Linked DNA regions of Homo sapiens: all the other regions are linked to region 3. Evidence: fine-mapped QTL for protein levels in blood plasma. A gene starts in region 3. Each other region holds a variant in brackets. All regions are shown on one strand. Distances are between the middles of the regions.

Region 1 (5,145 bases), 43 kb after region 3:
GCAGTGGCATGGCTGGAGCCTGCCACTCCCCTGACTGATTCCTGCAGCCTTGGGGAGGGAAGGAAGAGCCCGCACCTCGGAACGGGCCAGGCCTCAGTGGCCCTGACTGGCAACGTGGCTTTGGGCAAGTTTTTTATATCTGTCTGTCTATCTTCATCAGTAAACTAGAAATACTTCTCAAAGGGTTGTTCTGAAGATTTGAAGTAGTTGCTCAGAAAGTGACTGGCACATCTGTGCCCTGGGGATGTGTGGCAGGCAGGAGGAGACGGACGTCTCACTGCACACCCGCCTGTTACCCACGTGCACCAGACTGATGTCTCACTGCACACCCGCCTGTTACCCACATGCACAAGCAGTCTGCTCCTTCACAGCCCAGCTAGAGCGTGCAATGGGATGTCAACCCAGCTAGACCATGCAGTGAGATATTACTTGGCAATCAGAAAGGACACAGCTCTAACTCATGCTGCGGTGTGGGTGAGCCTCAAAAGCGCCGTGCTGAGTGAGAGACACAAGACACAAATGTTCCACATGTTACATGACTCAGTTCCTATGAAACCCACAGAGACAGAAGCAGCAGGGCGGGGGTGGGGACCATAGCTAAAAAGTACCAAGCTTCCCCCTTGAGGTGGAAGTTCTAAAATTGACTTGGGATGGCTGCACAACTGTGAATATACCCAAAACCATAGAACTGTACCCTTCAATTTTTATTTACTTTTTTTGTTTTTTGTTTTTTGTTTTCTTTTTGAGATGGAGTTTCACTCTTGTTGCCCAGGCTGGAGTGCAATGGCATGAGCTCAGCTCACTGCAACCTCTGCCTCCCGGGTTTAAGTGATTCTCCTGCCTCAGCCTCCCGAGTAGCTGGGATTACAGGCATGCGCCACCACGCCTGGCTAATTTTGTATTTTTAGTAGAGACATGGTTTCGCCATGTTGGTCAGGCTGGTCTCGAACTCCTGACCTCAGGTGATCCATCCGCCTCGGCCTCCCAAAGTGCTGGGATTACAGGCGTGAGCCACCGTGCCCAGCCTATTTACTTATTTTAAGAAAGGATCTCACTCCGTCACCGAGGCTAGAGTGCAGTGGTATGATCACAGCTCACTGCAGCCTCAACCTCCGGGGCTCAAGCCATCCTCCCACCTCAGCCTCCCAACTACCTGGGACCACAGGCGTGCACCACTGCACCTGGCTAGTTTTTGTATTTTTTGTAGAGTCAGGGTCTCGTTATGTTGCTTAGGCTGGTCTCAAACTCCTGGCCTCAAGCAGTCCTCCCACATCGGCCTCCCAAAGTGCTGGGATTACAGACATGATCCATTGCGCCCAACCAGGCTGTACACTTTAGATGGGAGAGTTGCATGGTATGTGAATTCTATCACAATAATGCTGTGGGTTTTGCTGCTGCTGCTGTTGTTTGAGACAGAGTCTCTCTCTCTGTTGCCCAGGCTGGAGTGCAATGGTGCCATCTCGGCTCACTGCAACCTCTGCATCCTGTGCCAAAGCAGTTCCTGTGTCTCAGTCTCCCGAGCAGCTGCGATGACAGGCACCTGCCACCATGCCTGGCTAATTTTTGTATTTTTAGTAGAGATGGGGTTTCGCCATGTTGGTCAGGCTGGTCTTGAACTCCTGACTTCAGGTGATCTGCCTGCCTTGGCCTCCCAAAATGCTGCGATTACAGGCATGAGCCACTGTGCCCAGCCTATAATGCTGTTTTTTTTTTTTTAATTAACTGGATAATTATAAACGTGAACATGCGTGCATAGAACTGATGCATGTGTCTGCCAGTGTGGACACTCCCGGGCTTCCTTCTGGTAGCTCAGCCACCTCTCTTGACCCTGACCCTCACTGCTTGATGTTAGGAGACAAGCCCAAGGCATCTGGGTTGCCAGCTTCCACCTTGGAAGGCCAGGGCCCAGCAAAGTCAAGGTGATGTGATGTGGCTGAGCAGGGAGGCCATCTTCCTTGCAGACAGGGACTCTGTCACTTTGGACTGGACTCTTGTCCCACAGTGCTGGCCAGGGGCAGGTGCAGAGCTATGCTTGGTTGGCATGGGACGCTGATGAGGGCTGTGTTGCGGCCAGGCCCAACCACCGTGAGCTGAGATCATGCCACGGCACTCCAGCCTGGAAGACAGAGTGAGACTCTGCCTCAAAAAAAATAAAAAAAATAAAAAGTTATAAATAGAACTACCCTATGATTCAGCAATCACACACTTCTGGGTATATATCCAAAAGAGCTGGCTGGGCACAGTGGCTTATGCCTGTAATCCCAATATTTTGAGAAGCCAAGGCAGGAGGATCGCTTGAGCCCAGGAGTTGGAGAACAGCTTGGGCAAGATGGCAAGACCCCCTGGCTACAAACAATTAATTTTAAACCCTGGTGTGGTGTCCTAGCTACTTGGGAAACTGAGGCGGGGGGATCGCTTGAGCCCAGGAATTAGAGCCTGCAGTGAGCTATGATGGCATCATTGCACTCCTGCCTGGGTGACAAAGTAAGACCCTGACTCTTTTTGTTTTTTGGCTGTGAGTGTATTCAATGCAAAATAATCCTCTCTGATTTTACTGAGGTAGCTGGCCATGTCCACGACCAAATCTGCCTTTAAACTGGAATTCGGTTGCTGACCCAGCCCGAGCCTCGGCTATCTTGTCGGCACCAGGGGCACAGCACTCCGTCTGTAGGT[A/G]TGTCTGTCAGCTTCCCCTCTTGTGAGTCTTGCAGGTCGCCCACCCTCCAGACCTTTAGGCCGAGGCCTGCCAGTCCCTGGACGGCTGCAGCATAGGGTGGCAGGCACAGTTTCCAGGGACAGATGAAGGTAATCACGGAGATACTGGATGCCCTCATTGGTAAGGTAGCAGTAGAAATGTCTCCAGGCAAGCCGGGCGTGGTGGCTCACGCCTGTAATCCCAACACTTTGGGAGGCCGAGGTGGGCAGATCACGAGGTCAGGAGATCGAGACCATCCTGACTAATATGGTGAAACCCCGTCTCTACTAAAAATATAAAAAATTAGCTGGTCGCGATGGCGTGAAGATGTAGTCCCAGCTACTAGGGAGGCTGAGGCAGGAGGATCGCTGGAACCCAGGAAGCAGAGGCTGCAGTGAGCTGAGATCGCACCACTGCACTCCAGCCTGGAGACTCTGTCTGAAAAAAAAAAGAAAGAAAGAAAGAAAGAAAGGAAGAAAGAAAGAAATGTCTCTAGGCAAACTGTTCCTTCAGGCAGCCTCGGGGCTTGAGAGACTGCATGGCCTTCGTGACATGAAGGTTGGGCACATTCTTGTCTGCCATCTCCGGGTGCTTAGGCATGTGGACATCCTTCTTGGCCACCATGACTCCCTCCTTAAAAAGGAGCCCATAGGCCGGGCACAGTGGCTCACCCCAGCACTTTGGGAGGCCAAGGCGGGTGGATCATCCGAGGTCAGGAGTTCAAGACCAGCCTGGCTAACATGGTGAGACCCTGTCTCTACTAAAAATACAAAAATTAGCTGGGCGTGGTGGCAGGCGCTGGAGGCTGAGGCAGGAGAATCGCTTGAACCTGGGAGGCAGAGGTTGCGGTGAGCCAAGATCACACCATTGCACTCCAGCCTGGGCAACAAGAGCAAAACTCCATCTCGAAAAAAAAAAAAAAAAGGTTAAGATGGTAAATTTTATGTTATGTATATTTTATCACAATAAAAAGTAATATTTTTTGCAGCCAAGGTATGCTAAAAGAAATGGCTTTATTTTTATTTTTATTATTAATTAATTTATTATTATTATTATTATTATTATTATTATTATTATTATTATTATTTGAGACAGAGTCTCACTCTGTTGCCCAGGCTGGAGTGCAGTGGCATGATCTCGGCTCACTGCAACCTCTGCCTCCTGGGCTCAAGCGATTCTCCTGCCTCAGCCTCCTGAGTAGCTGGGACTACAGGCGCCCACCACCACATCTGGATAATTTTTGTATTTTTAGTAGAGACAGGGTTTCACCACGTTGACCAGGCTGGTCTCGAACTCCTGACCTCAAGTGATGCACCCGCCTCGGCCTCCCAAAGTGCTGAGATTACAGGGGTGAGCTACTGCGCCCCAAGAAATGACTTCAAAAGGAAAAATGTGAGCACCAACGTAAGCTGGTGTAATGTAACGTAATTCCCACCAATGTAAGTTGGCAGGAATCCTTGCTCTGTATAGAAGGGTCACATTTTCTCATCACTGCTTGCAAGTGTGACAGCAGTGGCCTCATGGCCTTATCTGGGGGAAAGCACTTCCTTCCAAGCACCATGAAGGCCTCACGTGCTGAGACAAGATGGAAGCTCCTAGTCTCCCCTGAGGACTGACACGTCCTGTGCTTCTCGGTCTCTCAGGACGCGCGGGCGGCCATGCGCCCCTTCGACCCCTCCACTCTGCTGCCCACCTGCTGGGATTACTGGACCTACGCGGGCTCGCTCACCACCCCGCCGCTGACCGAGTCGGTCACCTGGATCATCCAGAAGGAGCCCGTTGAAGTGGCCCCAAGCCAGGTGAGCCGTGCCCGTAACTGGCACGATGGCGCTTCATGGAAGGCGTCCCTCTTGCTTGGCAGCGTCACTAAGATGCTGCATGAGAGCGTTGTGGAGTTATATATATTCTTTCATGCATTTGGGGCATTCTTACACAAGAAGAAAATTCCAACTGAAGTAGGAGCTTGTTGAGATTGGACAGCGGTTCCAGTGATCACAGCAAGCATGTCCTGAGCAACGCCCTAATCTATCACACACAGACACACGAGGCATCCATGGGAGTTGTCCCAGGGTCATGGGTCTGCATGGTTTTTGTTTTCTTCCTTTTTCTTTTCTTTCCTTTTTTTTTTTTGAGACAGAGTCTCGTTCTATCGCCCAGGCTGGAGTGCAGTGGTGCGATCTCGGCTCACTACAACCTCCACCTCCTGGGTTCAAGCGATTCTCCTGCCTCAGCCTCCCAAATAGCTGGGATTACAGGCACCCATCACCACGCCTGGCTAATTTTTGTATTTTTAGTAGAGACGGAGTTTCACCATGTTGGCCAGGCTGGTCTTGAACTCTTGACCTCAGGTGATCTGCCCACCTTGGCCTCCCAAAGCGCTGGGATTCCAGGCATAAGCCACCGAGCCCGGCCTCCTTTTTCTTATCTAAATAGTTTCATTGCTTTTTTTTTTT
Region 2 (5,145 bases), 32 kb after region 3:
AGACCCCCTGGGAGGCTCCACCCTCAGTCACCCATCAATGCACTTTGATGCTGCTGGGGCTGGTCGGCTGCAAACCCCCTTTCCCCCACAGACACAGGCCGAGGCAGAAGCGAGCACAGAGCTCACCGTGCTCCCATTTTGTGGTTCTGTAAGTTCCTTAGATTGTGTTTTGGAGGCCAGGCACGGTGGCTCACGCCTGTGTTTTGTTTTTGAGACAGAGTCTCACTCTGTCGCCCAGGCTGAAGTGCATTGGCGCAATCTCGGCTCACTGCAACCTCCACCCGCCAGGTTCAAGCGATTCTCCTGCCTCAGCCTCCCAAGTAGCTGGGATTACAGGCACCCACCAATACACCTGGCTAATTTTGTGTATTTTTAGTAGAGATGAGGTTTTATCATGTTGGCCAGGCTGGTTTCAAACACCTGACCTCAAGTGATACACCCGCCTTGGCCTCCCAAAGTGCTAGGATTACAGGCGTGAGCCACTGTGCCTGGCCTAACAAAGTGATTTTATGTGCTTATTGTGGGAAGGACTCTTTCTGTGTATTTTTAAAAATTGAGATGTAATTCATCTGTGTATGTTTAAGGAGAATAGAAGATTTGCTCATAATGGTAGAATTTTAAAACTAGATATGACTCTGAGGTTGCTCCAGACCAACACTGAGATTTTGAGTGAAGAGGGGCAGTGAGCAGCTCTGTGGCTTGGTCCAGCACTTGCCTAGCCCCTGACTGGACTAAAGCCAAATCCATTTTCCATTTTCCAGTTTACACCTTGGTGCCTCCAACTATGAGTACTTTTTTTTTTGAGACTGATTCTCACTCCGTCGCCCAGTCTGGAGTACAGTGGCACGTTCTCAGCTCACTGCAACCTCCGCCTCCCAGGTTCGAGCAATTCTCCTGCCTCAGCCTCCCGAGTAGCTGGGATTACAGGCACCCGCCACCACACCCAGCTAATTTTTGTATTTTCAGTAGAGATGGGTTACACCACGTTGGCCAGGCTGGTCTCTAACTCCTGACCTCAAGTGATCCGCCCGCCTCGGCCTCCCAAAGCGCTAGGAGTACAGGTGTGAGCCACCACGCCCAGCCCAAGTACTTCTGGTGTCGGGAAACCACCAGGAGTCAGCAGTGTCAAGCTCCCCAAGGCATTCATCACGCGCTCAGTGCTTTCCTGGCTTTTGCCACAGCGGGAGGTGACATGAGGCTCCTCCACAGCTATGGGAGGCACTCGGGCCACCCTGAATTCGGGATCAGTGCTCCAGTTCTGCTGGCGCCTTCCAGCCTTGCCCAGCCATCCCAGGAGCACGCTGTGCTGCTTTCAGTGAAAACGTGTGGAACGGGTACCCCATTTGTAGCAGCTGCTGATGGAAATCTGTTAGTGACAAAGTACTTAGACACAGGAGAAGCCACCCACATCCGAACCCCTGGGGAGCTCGTTAAAAGGCAGACTCCCAGCACTACCTGGACGTGGGAATGGCAGCCATGACTCTGGGGGCCAGAGCCAGAGGCCTCAGCGAGCGATGCTTATGGCTGAGCCCCACATGTCAGGAGAAGCAAGCTCCTGGGAGGCTGCACCTGGCACTGTGCCATGGAGAGGGGCACCCCGAGGCCTGCAGGTAGAGAGTGCTGACTCCAAGGTGAGTGTTTAGGGTGACTTAGGAAGGAAGGAGTGTTCCAATAAAAGCTGGCCCTGTGGTGGGCCTAGATTAAGCAGGGACTGCCAGAGATCAGGACTGATGCTACAGCTCAGGGTCTTCTTATTTAAAGACCTTGCTCACCCAGGAGCGGTGGCTCACACCTGTCATCCCAGCGCTTTGGGAGGCAGAGGCGGGTGGATCACCTGAGATCAGGAGTTTGAGACCAGCCTGGCTAACATGGTGAAACCCCGTCTCTACTTAAAATACAAAAATTGGCTTGGCCTGGTGGCACATGCCTGTAATCCCAGCTACTCAGGAGGCTGGGGCAGGAGAATCACTAGAACCCAGAGGTGGAGGTTGCAGTGAGCTGAGATCATGCCATTGTACTCCAGCCTGGGCAATAGAGTAAGATTCTGTCTTAAAATAAAACAAAACAAGACAAAACAAAAACTTTGCTCATTGTGTGTTATTTTATAATGTTATTTGGTGATAGGATTTAAGCTGCTTTTAAAAAATATTTGGAAGACACCTTTTTTTTTAATTAAAGTCTGGAAATCTTATAGGACAGGCAGGCATCACAGAAACGTTCTTTACGGATTTCTGCCTGCAGGGAGTTGAGGCCCTCACCACCACCCAGTGGCAGCACTGGGACCCTGCCTTCATTCCACATTTACTGTGAACCTCTGGGCAGGCGCTGGGCTGGGGGGGGGCAGAGTGAATGGGACAGACAGAGCCCACCTTTCACGGAGCCCACCTTTGGCTTGTCACTTCAACCATACAGCAACCCCTTGCGAGTGAACTCATATAACCCTAATGTAGACAATGCCTCAGGTAACACCACAGCTCAACAAACAGACAAAATGACACACACGTCTCACTGCCTTTATTTCCAGGAATTAGTGGTGGGCCCTTGGAAAACCACTACAGACTGAAGCAATTTCACTTCCACTGGGGAGCAGTGAACGAGGGGGGCTCAGAGCACACAGTGGACGGCCACGCGTACCCCGCAGAGGTTTGTAGACGTGGCCTAACAGCACATATCTGCACACTTTCCATGTCTCCGGCTCTATGGTGGGGGGTGAACAAGCCATGCGC[G/A]CCGCTCAGATGTGAAGGATTTCCTGGGGCCTGGGACTGTCAGTGCTCAAACCAGAACCGTCGGCCGCCCCACCCGTTTAGTCACACCTCTCCTACGAGGAAGGCGCTGTAAGTTCTCTCTCATTTAACGGAAGAAGAGACTGAGGTTCTGAATGGTTACGGAACTTGCCAAAGCCAGACAGCCGGGATGCAAAGTCAGAGCTTGAGCTCTTTGCCGCACTTCACTCAGCTGTGTGCTTGCAGCTGTAGGGACTAGCAAATCCACAAGGCCCTCTGCTGAGAAGCTGAACATCTTTGCAATAGAGATCATCTTCTTTTGTTTGTTTGTTTGTTTGTTTTTTGGTTTTTGGTTTTTTTTTTTTGAAACAGGGTTCACTCTGTCACCCAGACTGGAGTGCATTGGTGCAATCTTGGCTCACCACAACCTCCGTCTCCCAGGCTCAAGCGATTCTCCTGCCTCAGCCTCCCGAGTAGCTGGGATTACAGGTGCGTGCCACCAGGCCCTGCTAATTTTTGTATTTTTAGTAGAGATGGGGTTTCGCCATGTTGGCCAGGCTGGTCTCGAACTCCTGACCTCAAGTGATCCACCCACCTCAGCCTCCCAAAGTGCTAGGATAACAGGCGTGAGCCACCGTACCCGGCTAAGATCATCTTAAAGCAGTCTTATTTTCAACCTTCCAAAGTGGGAGTCAGTAGAGAAAATCAGTGCATATCAATGTTGGGAATTGGTTTTTGTAGTTTTTTTGGGGTGATAAGTGATGCCTTATAGATTTCCCCAAATATTTCATTATGAAATTTTTGCAACATACGAAAAAATGAAAAGAAATGAACGAGAAGAATCTACGAGTTTGATGTCTCAGTCCTGTGATGATCATTTTTGCCATATTCACTTTATCACACCTCTGCTCACCCACTCACCTAACTTTTTGATGCTTTTTCAAGCTGAGGACTCTTTCTGTTTTTTGAACTTGTTGTTGTTATGAAAGTAATGCTGCAGTTAATGTGGAACTAGAGTCCACCCAAACCAAAAAATGAAAATTGCTTGTAATCTCACACCCAGAGGTGACCTCCGGACATTTTATAAATAGGGAGTGATATCTATTGTCATCATCATACACATATTTATAAATTGTTCCAAGAATGAGCACAACAATGGCTTCTGTGTGCTTCCTTTCATTTAACAACATGACTTTTATTTTAGTATCTCTATCTGCAACTTTGTTTTTGATGAACAGATATTTTATTTATTTATTTATCTGTTTTTGAGACTGAGTATCACTCTGTTGCCTAGGCTGGAGTGCAGTGGCGCTATCTCACGATCTTGGCTCACTGCAACCTCTGCTGCCCAGGTTCAAGTGATTCTCCTGCCTCAGCCTTCTGAGTAGCTGGGATTACAGGCACCTGCCACTGCGCCTGGCTAGTTTTTGTAGTTTTAGTAGGGACGGGGTTTCACCATCTTGGCCAGGCTGGTCTTGAACTCCTGACCTCGTGATCCACCCACCTCGGCCTCCCAGAGTGCTGAGATTATAGGCGTGAGCCACCGCGCCCAGCCGAGGCCTGAGTTTCTTCTGGTAATTCTTGTCCAAGGATAACTAGGAAGTAGAAAATAATGAAACCACCCATTTCTATTGGATGAGGTTAACATGATCCTCTCCTTTCCCCCCCCACCAGGAAGACTGAGGCTGTTCCTTCCTGTGGCTTCGTCAAGGGCCTGGGAGCTCAGAGGTGCTGCTGGTGCTGGGATCTTACTCATCTGGCTGCAACAACTTAGTTCTTTTTTTTTTTTTTTGTGAGATGGAGTCTCGCTCTGTCACCCAGGCTGGAGTGCAGTGGCACAATCTCAGCTCACTGCAAGCTCTACCTCCTGGGTTCACACCATTCTCCTGCCTCAGCCTCCTGAGTACCTGGGACTACAGGCTCCCGCCACCACGCCCAGCTAATTTTTTTTTTTTGTATTTTTAGTAGAGACAGGATTTCAGCATGTTAGCCAGCATGGTCTCGATCTCCTGACCTCGTGATCCACCCGCCTCCGCCTCCCAAAGTGCTGGGATTACAGGTGTGAGCCACCGCGCCTGGCCATTTCATTATGATTAAGTGGACACATAGGTCAGCCATTCAGAAGGGGAAGTGACTGTCTTATTTCTTGCTGATCAATTTAAGTTCTCTTTCCATTGTGTTTCAGCTGCATTTAGTTCACTGGAATTCTGTGAAATACCAAAATTACAAGGAAGCTGTCGTGGGAGAGAATGGTTTGGCTGTGATAGGCGTGTTTTTAAAGGTAATCACTTGCTCGGGTGTAGATCTAATGAAGAAAGTGGTGATCCATCATTAGGATTGCTTTTTTTTTTTTGAGACAGGACTCGCTGTGTCACACAGGCTGGAGTGCAGTGGCACAGTCTCGGCTCATTGCAACCTGCAC
Region 3 (5,145 bases):
GGGTGGGAGCTTGGCCTGCAGCAATGAAAGTGCCGCTCTAAGGACATCACTTGTGTCAACAACAGCTCGACAGAGTGTTATCGTGTATGATGGAATCCTAGAATCTTCCCTACTTTACAGATGAGGAAATGGAGGCAAAAGCCAATGAATTAATGAGTGAATGAATGAATGAGTGAATGAGTGAATGAATGAGTGAATGAGTGAATGAGTGAGTGAATGAATAAGTGAGTGAATGAGTGAGTGAATGAATGAATGAATGAGTGAATGAATGATTGACTGAGTGAGAGAATGAATGAGTGAGTGAATGAATGAGTGAGTGAGTGAATGAGTGAGTGAGTCAATGAGTGAGTGAGTGAGTCAATGAATGAGTGAGTGGGTCAATGAATGAATGACAATGAATCAGACTTCCCAAGAGTGGGTGCATTTCCACCATGACTGTGTGGGAAGGAGAGAACATATCATCCAGACTTGGTTTTTGTTGCTCAAAACAAATGCAAGCAAACTCTTGGGCCCACCAGAGCAGTGGCCGAAAGCCGCAGACCCTATCCATTGTGTGGGGGATTTCAGTGGGATTCTTGGGCTTTCAGGAGCCTACAAGTGGACTCGCATTTCAACACCTGTGTTCTGTAGGGTTTTCTAGATCTAAGATTCCAGGATTCTATGAAAAGTTATGATAGCCCTGCCCCCTAAAAGATTGTAAGTTTAAACAACAACAAGAAGTCACAAACTGGTGCATCCCAATCCCATGGGTTCCATTTCACAGGTAAAAGGTGTCTGGGTGAATAAACTGCTGTGCCGCTCAAAGGACCCAAAGGAAGGTTCTTTGTGGGTTGGCGTCTGCAAATATCACCAGCTGCCTGGCTAGAGTGACCAGCTAACATACCCATGTGGACCCTGGGCATGAAGGGAGGTACCAGGCCAGGGGCAGTGGCTCATGCCTGTAATCCGAGCACTTTGGGAGGCCACTCTGGGAGGATTGCTTGAGCCCAGGAGTTCAAGACCAGCCTGGGCAACATGGCGAGAACCTGCCTCTACAAATAATTTTTAAAATTAGCTGGACATAATGGCATGCACCTATAGTCCCAGCTACTTGGGAGGCTGAGGAGGGAGGATCACTTGAGCCTGGGTGATTGAGACTGCAGTGAGCCATGATGGCACCACCGCACTCCACCTTGGGTGACAGAGCAAGACCTCACCTCAAAAAAAAAAAAAAAAAGAAAGAAAGAAAGAAAGAAAGAAAGAAAGAAAAGAAAAGAGGCTGGACGCAGTGGCTCATGCCTGTAATCCTAGCACTTTAGGAGGCCGAGGTGGGTGGATTGCCTGAGCTCAGGAGTTCGAGACCAGCTTGGGGAACACAGTGAAACCCCGTCTCTACTAAAAATACAAAAAATTGGCCGTTGTGGTGGTGTGTGCCTATAATCCCAGCTACTCAGGAGGCTGAGACAGGAGAATTGCTTAAACCTGGGAGGCAAAGGTTGCAGTGAGGCAGGATCACGCCATTGCACTCCAGCCTGGGCAACAGAGCGAGACTCCATCTCAAAAAAAGAAAGAAAGAAAAGAAAAGAAACGAAGAAAAGAGGCTGGGCGTAGTGGCTCACACTTGTAATCCCAGCACTTTGGGAGGCCGAGGCAGGCAGATCACCTGAGGTCAGGAGTTCAACACCAGCCTGGCCAACGTGGTGAAACCCCATCTCTACTAAAAATACAAAAAATTAGCTGGGCATGGTGGTGGGCGCCTGTAATCCCAGCTACTCAGGAGGCTGAGGCAGGAGAATTGCTTGAACCTGGGAGGCAGAGGTAGCAGTGAGCCGAGATCACGCCATTGCACTCTAGCCTGGGCAACAGAAGTGAAACTCTGTCTAAAAAAAAAAAGAAAAGGAAAGAAAGAAAGGTGGCCCTGTTAATGTTTATGCCAAGACAGCAGGCATGACCTGGAAGTGTCCGAAGCCACAGGGCATCTTGCTTCCGGGGAGGATGAATGAATCAAATCGCACCTATTTTAAGGCAAGCAAGGACTCCATGACTTCAGGAGCCCTGGTGGGTGGACAGAAGCTCCCTGCTCCCCTGGCCTGTCTACCCAGCAGCGCTTTGGCCAGTCCCATTCCTGTACTTCTGAGCCTGCCTGCCAGTCCCTCCTCACATGCACACCATGGCTTTGTGCCTGGTATTGAGTGTCCCGGAGCCCCAAACCACACGGTCAACCCCATGAAAGAAACAGGGACTCTGCTCTCATCCACTCGCCCCCGCCTCCCGCGTAATCCCCTGGTGCTCACGCAGCCCCACCGTACAGTTTTTCTAGCTCCCTGGCAGACTTGTGCTCCTGTTTGCCAGATCAAAGCCCAGTGACCTGAGTGGCCTGTCCCCAGCAGAGGCCACTAATCCCTGTGGACCCACCCTGTTGGGAAAGGCATGGGTTGAACTTTAACCATTAGGCTCAGGGGTTGGGATGAGTTTCTACAAAAAGAGGTGGGTACACGCCAGTCCACAGTGGTCCTGATCAAAGTGAGAACAGACAGCAGGGAACATCACCCTCTTCAGACTGGAGTCAGTGGGAACAGACCCAAGATGTTGGGGAGGAACACTTGGAAGACCTCAGCTTTCTCCTTCTTGGTTGAGCAGATGTGGGCCCCTCTCTGGAGTCGTTCGATGAGGCCAGGGCGATGGTGTTCTCAGCGTTCCTGTGCATGGCAAACCAGCAATAACACTTGTAAGTAGAGCCTCAAATTTCCTAAGATGCGACTGGATCCTTGTCTTAGCTGATGGGGTCTTTCGAGAGGAGAGAGGAGAGACCGTCCCGAGCCAGATGGGTTCAGATTTCCACTCCGTTTTTTTTTTTTTTTTTTTAAGATGGCGTCTCGCTCTGTGGCCCAGGCTGGAGTACAGTGGCGTGATCTCAGCTCACCACAACCTCCACTTCCCGGGTTCAAGCGATTCTCCTGCCTCAGCTTCCTGAGTAGCTGGGACTATAGGTGCATGCCACCACTCCTGGCTAATTTTTCGTATTTTTAGTAGAGACAGGGTTTCACTGTGTTAGCCAGGTTGGTCTCGAACTCCTAACCTCGCGATCCGCCTGTCTCAGCCTCCCAAAGTGCTGGGATTGCAGGCATCAGCCACGGCGCCCGGCCCTCTTTTTTCTTTTTTTGATGAAGTTTTGCTCTTTTGCCCAGGCTAGAGTGCAATGGCATGATCTCGGCTCACTGCAACCTCTGCCCTCCAGGTTCAAGTGATTCTCCTGCCTCAGCCTCCAAAGTAACTGGGACTACAGGCACCCGCCACTGCACCCAGCTAATTTTTTGTATTTTGGTAGAGATGGGGTTTCACCATGTTGGCCAGGCTGGTCTCGAACTCCTGACCTCAGGTGATCCACCCACCTTGGCCTCCCAAAGTGCTAGGATTACAGGCGTGAGCCACCGCGCCTGGCCACACTCCGTTTCTCTTGTATTTGGTGACCTTGGGTGAATCATTTAGCCTCCGTTTCAGGGGTCCTGGGGAGGGCAAGATGCTGGGAGCAGGCGGGTAGTCCGTGTTCGCACGGGACACACTGGCACGACTCACCATCCAGACCCGGCGGAATGGGCTGCACTAACCAGTCACGATCGCTCCTAAACTCTTCGGCAGAGAACGCTTTCAAGCAAACCTGTAACAAATAAACCACTCAGCCAGCTCTGCCAAGAAACTGCCCCGTGCCAGCCCCTCCTGGCTTCATGGTCAGTGCCTTGTGACCTTGAACGAGGCCCTTCCTCTTTCTGGGTCTCAGGTGCTTCCTCCGTAGAATGAGAGCCTGCTTTGGCAGCTGCCAAGTTCTCTTCTAACTGAAATCTTCCATGCATTCCATGTTTGGGCCATTGAAAGAGCATGGGCTTAGGAGCCAGACCCCAGGCATGCAGTCCGACTGACGCTTGCTGAGGTGGAGCCTCGGCAGGTCTTCACCCCCAAGCCTCTGTGTCCTTATCTCGAGATGGGGGTGGCCAGACTTTCTCTCCAGGGCCATGGAAGGATGACACGATGCGTGTAGAAAGCCTGGCCCACCCCAGACTCTGAGTGAGCTACACTCATTCCTCCTGTTGGGGTCCACACCTGTGGACTGGAGTGCAGTGGTGCGATCTCGGCTCACTGCAGCCTCTGCCTCCTGGGTTCAAGCGATCCTCTTGACTCAGCCTCCCAAGTAGCTGGGACTACAGGCGTGTGCCACCACGCCCAACTAATTTCTGTATTTTTAGTAGAGATAGGATTTCGCCATGTTGGCCAGGCTGGTCTCAAACTCCCGACCTCAGGTGGTCTACCTGCCTCGGCCTCCTAAAGTGCTGGGATTACAGGCGTGAGCCACTGCACCCACCCCCCTTTTTTATTCTTAGTACGACCGTCAAGAGCGCTAGCCTGCCTAGATTGGAATCTTGGCCCCACTGCTCTATGGCTGTTGCCCCTCTGTGACTTTCCTTTATTTTTTGAGACTAATTTCTGTCTTGTTGCCCAGGCTGGAGCGCAGTGGTGCGATCTCCAGCTCACCGCAACCCCCACCTCCCAGGTTCAAGCAATTCTCCTGCCTCAGCCTCCCGAGTAGCTGGAATTACAGGCATGCGCCACCACATCCGGCTAATTTTGTATTTTTAGTAGATACAGGGATTCTCCATGTTGCTCAGGGTGGTCTTGAACTCCCAGCCTCAGGTGATCTGCCCGCCTCAGCCTCCCAAAGTGCTGGGATTGCAGGCGTGAGCCACCACGCCCAGCTGTCCCCTCTGTGACTTTCTTAACTTCCCCCAGCCTTGGTTTTGTCGTCTGTAACAGGGGGTTGATAATGGTGCTTACGGCACAGTGTCGTTGGGAGAAGGGTCCGAGGTGGGGCCTGCAAAGGCTGGGGACAGCACATGGCTCCAGGAAGCCCTTGCTAGACGCCAGCTGCTGCTGTTGCTAACACAGGCAGCGGTGGGTGCCCTGTGTCTATTTAAGCATTTCCCTGTCAGTGGGCAGCAGGTAGCATTCCATTTCTTACTGTGGCAACATGTCCTCTTACATCGTGTGCTAGAGAGAGTCATATTCTGTATCGGCACCTAAATCCATTTACACCATGGTCCTCAACCTGTTCCCAGTGAACAGAGGGCTCTGCCAAATCATTTCAGAGTTCCACAAAGAGCAGAATATTCTGCC
Region 4 (5,145 bases), 78 kb after region 3:
AAAGCCAGACTCTGTAAAATGTTTGAAGAGATTTATCCGGAGTCAAATGTGAGGACCAAGGCCTGGAGGCCCTGAGGACATGTGCCCCAGGGGGTGGGCCACAGCTGGAGTTCATACCTCCTACAAGGACAGAAGTTACAGGCAGACATCAGTCAGTACATGAAAGGTATTTGTTGGTTCTGCCGAGAAAGGCGGGACAACTCCAAGGCGGGGATGGGCTTCCTGGTCACAGGTGGGTTCGAAGATTTCCTTTTTCTTTATATATATATGTGTGTGTGTGTGTGTGTGTGTGTGTGTGTGTGTGTGTGTGTGTGTGTGTGTGTGTGTATTTTTTTTTTTTTTTGAGATGCTTTTGTTACTCGGGCTGGAGTGCAGTGGTATGATCTCAGTTCACTGCAACCTCCGCCTCCTGGGTTCAAGTGATTCTCCTGCCTTAGCTTCCCGAGTAGCTGGGACTACAGGCATGCACCACCATGCCCAGCTAATTTTGTGTTTTTAGTAGAGACGGGGGTTTCACCATGTTGGTCAGGCTGGTTTCGAACTCTTGATCTCAGGTGATCCGCCCACCTTGGCTTCCCAAAGTGCTGGGATTACAGGTGTGAGCCACCGTGCCTGGCAAAAGATTTTCTGATTCACAATTGGTTGAAAGAGTTATTAGCTAAAGACCTGGTATCAATAGAAAGGAGTATCTGGGTAAGACAGGAGGTTGTGGAGACGAATATTGTGTTTTGTTTTGTTTTGTTTTGTTTTGTTTTTGTCACCCAGGCTGGAGTGCAGTGGCATGATCTCAGCTCACTGCAACCCGGTTCAAGCGATTCTCCTGCCTCAGCCTCGCAAGTAGCTGGGATTGCAGGTGCCTGCCGCCACCATGCCTGGCTAATTTTGTATTTTTAGTAGAGATGGGGTTTCTCCATGTTGGTCGGGCTGGTCTCGAACTCCTGACCTCGTGATCTGCCCACCTCAGCCTCCCAAAGTGCTGGGATTACAGGCATGAGCCACTGAGCCAGGCCAAGATCTGTGTTTGAGTGTTAGTGCTGGTCCGCTGTACCTGAATTCCAGAGGGAGGGGGTATAACAAGGCCTGTGTGACCCCCTCTTCCCATCGTGACCTGAGCTCGTTTTTCAGGTTAACTTTGGAATATCCCTTTGGCAATAGGAGGGGTCCCTTTAGTCAGTTACGGGGCTTAGAATTTTATTTTTGGTGTACGTGCTCAAACTGCAGCTGCTACAAAACCAAGGCCATGGTGACCCCGGGGCCAGTCCAGCTTTGTCCCTGTGCTCTCGAGCTGCTGGAGGCCAATGCAGGATTCTGTCCACGGCTCTCATGTGTGGCTTCAGAGCCTGAGGGTTCTTGGGGCCCTGTCTTCACCTGCTACCGTGTAGGGGCCTTGTGAGCTGAGTCAACTGGAAGAGCCCAGGGCCTCTGCAGAAGGCCTGAGCAGGGCCCGGGCACTGTCCCTGGAGCTCTGAGTCCCTCAAGCTGTGTGGCCCGGAGCCAGGCGCTTGACTTCTCTGGTCGTTTGCTTCAGAGCTGGAAGCCTGGGGTGACGTGGGTCTTTGGCAGGGGTCAGGTAGGGGAGGGGCCAGCCAGGAATCAAACATCCCTGACAGGTGAGGGGGCAGGTGAGGAGGGCAGGGCAGGAGCCCCTGGAGCACTTGTGCAGCAGCATCTGGGCCGGTGCAAGCCCTGAGATGGCTTCAGGTCCTGCTCAGAGCTAAGGGCTCCCCGTCACCAGGGATTCTTCCATCACTGCATCTGCAGAGCCCATCGGGATTGGGGAGAGGCCCTGGCCTTAGCTTGGAACAGCTGCATCCTCCTGTCGGGTGTACAGGCTGTGCACTGGTTAAGCCTGAGCGCAGAGTCTGTTCAACGAGTTCATTGTGTGGTATTTGCTTCCGCTTGCTGTTGAGTTGGACTGGCTTGGACGCTGGCCAGGAGCCCAAGTGGACTTGGTGCTTCTCTTTGACAGCCGGGATTGAAAATCCCAGTCAAGTGGCCAGAGCACGAGGGTGAGATTTAGGAGACCTGGATGTCCTCACTTTGCCGCCCAGGAACTGCTGTGTGACTTTCACCAAGTGGGACAACCTCTCTGAACTACGTTTACCCCGGCTATAAAATGGAGGTGTTGGATTGGCTGCCACAAGTGTCCTTCCACCTCCACAATACCGTGACTGGAGCGGGTTTTCACTCCTTTTTCTTGTTAGCATAACTGTTGGAGCTGTAGAGGGTTTGGAGTGGGGCGTGGGTTTCCGGACCACAGATGTGTGAGGCTCCGCACTTAGCCAGCAGTGGCAACTCCTTATCACTGGTGCCCACGGCTTCATCTGTGCCCTGAAGATACTCATGCTGCGGTGACTGGTCAGATTAATGGTGATGCTTTCATGGGGCGCCGTAAGACACGTCCGCGAGGTATTTCGCCCATGCAGCAGGAGGCAGTTGTTCCAGTCTGTTGGAAACAGGAAAGGGAGGCTCAGTCCCTGCAAAGGAACTTGCCGGAGTTCACACAGCATTTCAGCACCGGGTGGCCTGGTTTCAGAGTTTCAGAGGGAGCGGTGGCCCTTCCTGTCAGCCCTGGGGGTCTCCTGGAGTCAGGACCCTTGGGAAACCCAAATCCACCAGGACGCTTGTGTCAGGAGAACCTGACCACATGAGAAGCTGCCCTTTTCCAGTTCTCCTGCTTACCCTGGACTTGGGATGTTGGCAAATTTCAGAGCTTGCCAAATCTGCATCTTCCTGGCCTGTTTAAAATGAATGTGTCAGCCCCATTCTGGACAGCAGCTGACACCTCCTCCCCCGTGCCAGCCAGGACAGTGTGGTTGGGCGTAACTCAGCCCCGGTTAAAAATGGAAAAAAGTACAAAGACATGTGTTCAAGGGCTGGTGACAGAATTTGAAAATGTGACACCAGCCTGTTAGTAATTTGTTTTCACAGAAATCTGTTTCAACACTGAGCAGACAGGTGGGGCCAGGGCCTTGGGATCATCTCTCTGTTTGCCCAGGGACATCTGTATGTCCGGCCCAAAGGTGGGGCCTTGTGCTCTGCAGAGACTGGGCATCAAAATTGAGCCATTATAAGCAGACCATCCCGGCCAGGCG[C/T]GGTGGCTCACGCCTGTAATCCCAACACTTTGGGAGGCCAAGGTGGGCGGATCGCCTGAGGTCAGGAGTTCGAGACCAGCCCGGCCAACATGGTGAACGCTTGTCTCTACTAAAAATACAAAAATTAGGCCGGTGTGGTGGCAGGTGTCAGTAATCCCAGCTACTGAGGCAGGAGGCTGAGGCAGGAGAATCACTTGATCCCCAGAGGCGGAGGCTGCAGCTACTCGGGAGGTAGATGTGAGAGAATGGCTTGAACTCAGGAGGCGGAGGTTGCAGTGAGCCAAGATCGTACCACTGCACTCCAGCCTGGGCGACAAGAGCGAGACTTCGTCTCAAAAAAAAAAAAAATGTGAACGCTGCCTTTGCTTCCCTGCCCCGGAACTGCTTCATTTTCCTTGGGGTTTCCGGACCACTTTGACCTCTCTCTCTGGCCAGCAGTGGCAGGGAGGCAGGTGGATCTGGAGCCGGCATGGGCAGGCTTGGCATTCCAGCCCATTCTGGGGTGAGGTTGGCCTTGGGTGAGGACAGGGGTCACTGGGTCAGACACATTCATTTTCTGGAGCCCGGGGCGGTGACGTGTCCATCAGGGAAGCACGCGCCTGTGCTGGGGGCGCTCCCCAGGCCGGCAGCACCAGCCTCCCTGGGACCTTGTTCTGTGCAGATGTGTTGTCTCCATCTCCCGGACCTGCCTGATCAGAAGCTCTGGGTTTCCATCCGCCTCCCCCACCACTGCTTTTATAAGTTCCCCCGGGGGATGACACGGGAGATGGTGGGGGCTGTCTGTCGGTGGAGAAGGTGGAGGCTTGTACTCAGAGCAGGGGATATTTAGACTTGAAGGGGCCAGGGAGGAAGGTACTGGTTCTACTAAAGCCCCATGTGCACTGGGCAGCCACCAAGTTCGGGGCCCTGTGCGTACCGAGTGGATTCCGACAAAGAAGCTGTCTCAGGAGCCCCAGCCAGCTGCAGAGGGGGGCCCAAGCTCCAAGGCTGGGTGTCAGGTTTGCCAGGTGCTGGCTCCGCTAGGGGCCACAGGCTGCACTGGGCGGGACTGGGCTGGGCTGGTACCTGTGCCCGGTGTCGGGCCAGCTGTAGTTGCTGTGGTCAGCTGCCGCTCTCCGGCCCCGTGCGAACTGCTGTGCCCGGTGCACCCTGGGGGACCAGGCTGCCTGGGCTTCCTGGAACTGATGAAGCTGCCGGCCACTTCCTCTGTGCTGTCTCCAGCAGGCAGTTCTGGGTAAACAATCGTCATTTGCCTATAAAGCTGCACAGCTCACAGGCCTTGGACCATCTCTGCCCCAGCCCCAGCATTGGCCCTCTGGACAGACTCTGAAACCGTGCGCGGAACACAGCCTGTCATTACAGATGACTCCTGGAGGCAGTCCTCGGGGGCCTGGCAGGAGCACTTCTGTTTCTGTTGGGTCTGAAAATGACAGAAGGGACTGCAGGATGCCTGCCTGGGCTGGACGCCTGCCTGGGGCACTCACAGTGGCTGTGTTTGGGCTCGAAGGGGCCCGGGAGGATCATGTTCACTGGGTACTCCCACTTACAGACAGGCCAAGGTGCTGAGCCCTGCAGGACTCACTGCTGTGCCTGGCTCGGGGGCAGGTGAGGACCGGCGGCCCAGGGAGCAGCCTCTGTGGCCAACAGAGAGGATTTTCATTGTGGCTGACCCTGAACCCTATCCACGGATGCTCCTGTACCTGGTACATGTTTATTACCTGAAAGAATCAGGCATTAGTCCGTGTGGGGTGGGTTCATGGGGCCTGCGGGGTCCCCACCCAGCCGGGGCCCACAGGTCCCACCTGCTCTCCATATTGAACACACCTGTTACTGGCCCTTCCCCCACCCCTCTCCTCCAACACTGGACCCTGGGGGATCATCCCTTTGCTTGTAGCGGGATTTTATCAGGAGCTGGACAGAGTTGGGGCCAGGAGACCAAGATGCCAGCATCAGGGGAGGTGAGCAGAGCCGGCTGCCGCAGAGGTGAGCGTTCACGGGCATCAGGCAGGGAGGCACCTCAGAGAGTCATCCCCCCGAGGGGAGAGGGGTA

Direction of the effects. Positions count from the first base shown, and alleles are read on the strand shown. Strength reflects both the effect of a copy and how common the allele is.
With allele A in place of G in region 1, the plasma level of the protein whose gene starts at base 2,487 in region 3 is lower (strong association).
In carriers of allele A in region 2, the plasma level of the protein whose gene starts at base 2,487 in region 3 tends to be higher than with G alone (moderate association).
As copies of C replace T in region 4, the plasma level of the protein whose gene starts at base 2,487 in region 3 goes up (weak association).

Evidence for each region. PIP is the posterior inclusion probability: the model's chance that the variant is causal. Protein levels are from antibody-based Olink assays in UK Biobank. Linkage for the fine-mapping came from a reference panel and not from the study's own genotypes, which makes the PIPs less certain.
Region 1: its variant is fine-mapped to the plasma level of the CA5A protein (UK Biobank, PIP above 0.99).
Region 2: its variant is fine-mapped to the plasma level of the CA5A protein (UK Biobank, PIP above 0.99).
Region 4: its variant is fine-mapped to the plasma level of the CA5A protein (UK Biobank, PIP above 0.99).

Annotation. Positions count from the first base shown.
Region 1 is chr16:87,891,145-87,896,289 of GRCh38, reverse strand. CA5A (carbonic anhydrase 5A) reads left to right here. Exons shown (of 7, transcript NM_001739.2): 6 at 4,336-4,491. Among named protein-coding and RNA genes, the nearest start is that of SLC7A5, 24 kb to the right of the region's middle. The variant A/G (reference allele first, on the strand shown) is at 2,674.
Region 2 is chr16:87,902,284-87,907,428 of GRCh38, reverse strand. CA5A (carbonic anhydrase 5A) reads left to right here. Exons shown (of 7, transcript NM_001739.2): 3 at 2,525-2,643; 4 at 4,909-5,004. Among named protein-coding and RNA genes, the nearest start is that of CA5A, 32 kb to the left of the region's middle. The variant G/A (reference allele first, on the strand shown) is at 2,727.
Region 3 is chr16:87,933,871-87,939,015 of GRCh38, reverse strand. CA5A (carbonic anhydrase 5A) reads left to right here and starts at 2,487. Exons shown (of 7, transcript NM_001739.2): 1 at 2,487-2,707. The coding sequence starts at 2,566.
Region 4 is chr16:87,855,524-87,860,668 of GRCh38, reverse strand. All of the region lies in intron 1 of SLC7A5 (solute carrier family 7 member 5), which reads left to right. Among named protein-coding and RNA genes, the nearest start is that of MIR11401, 4.2 kb to the right of the region's middle. RefSeq lists an enhancer at 1-164 and a silencer at 4,546-4,734. The variant C/T (reference allele first, on the strand shown) is at 3,096.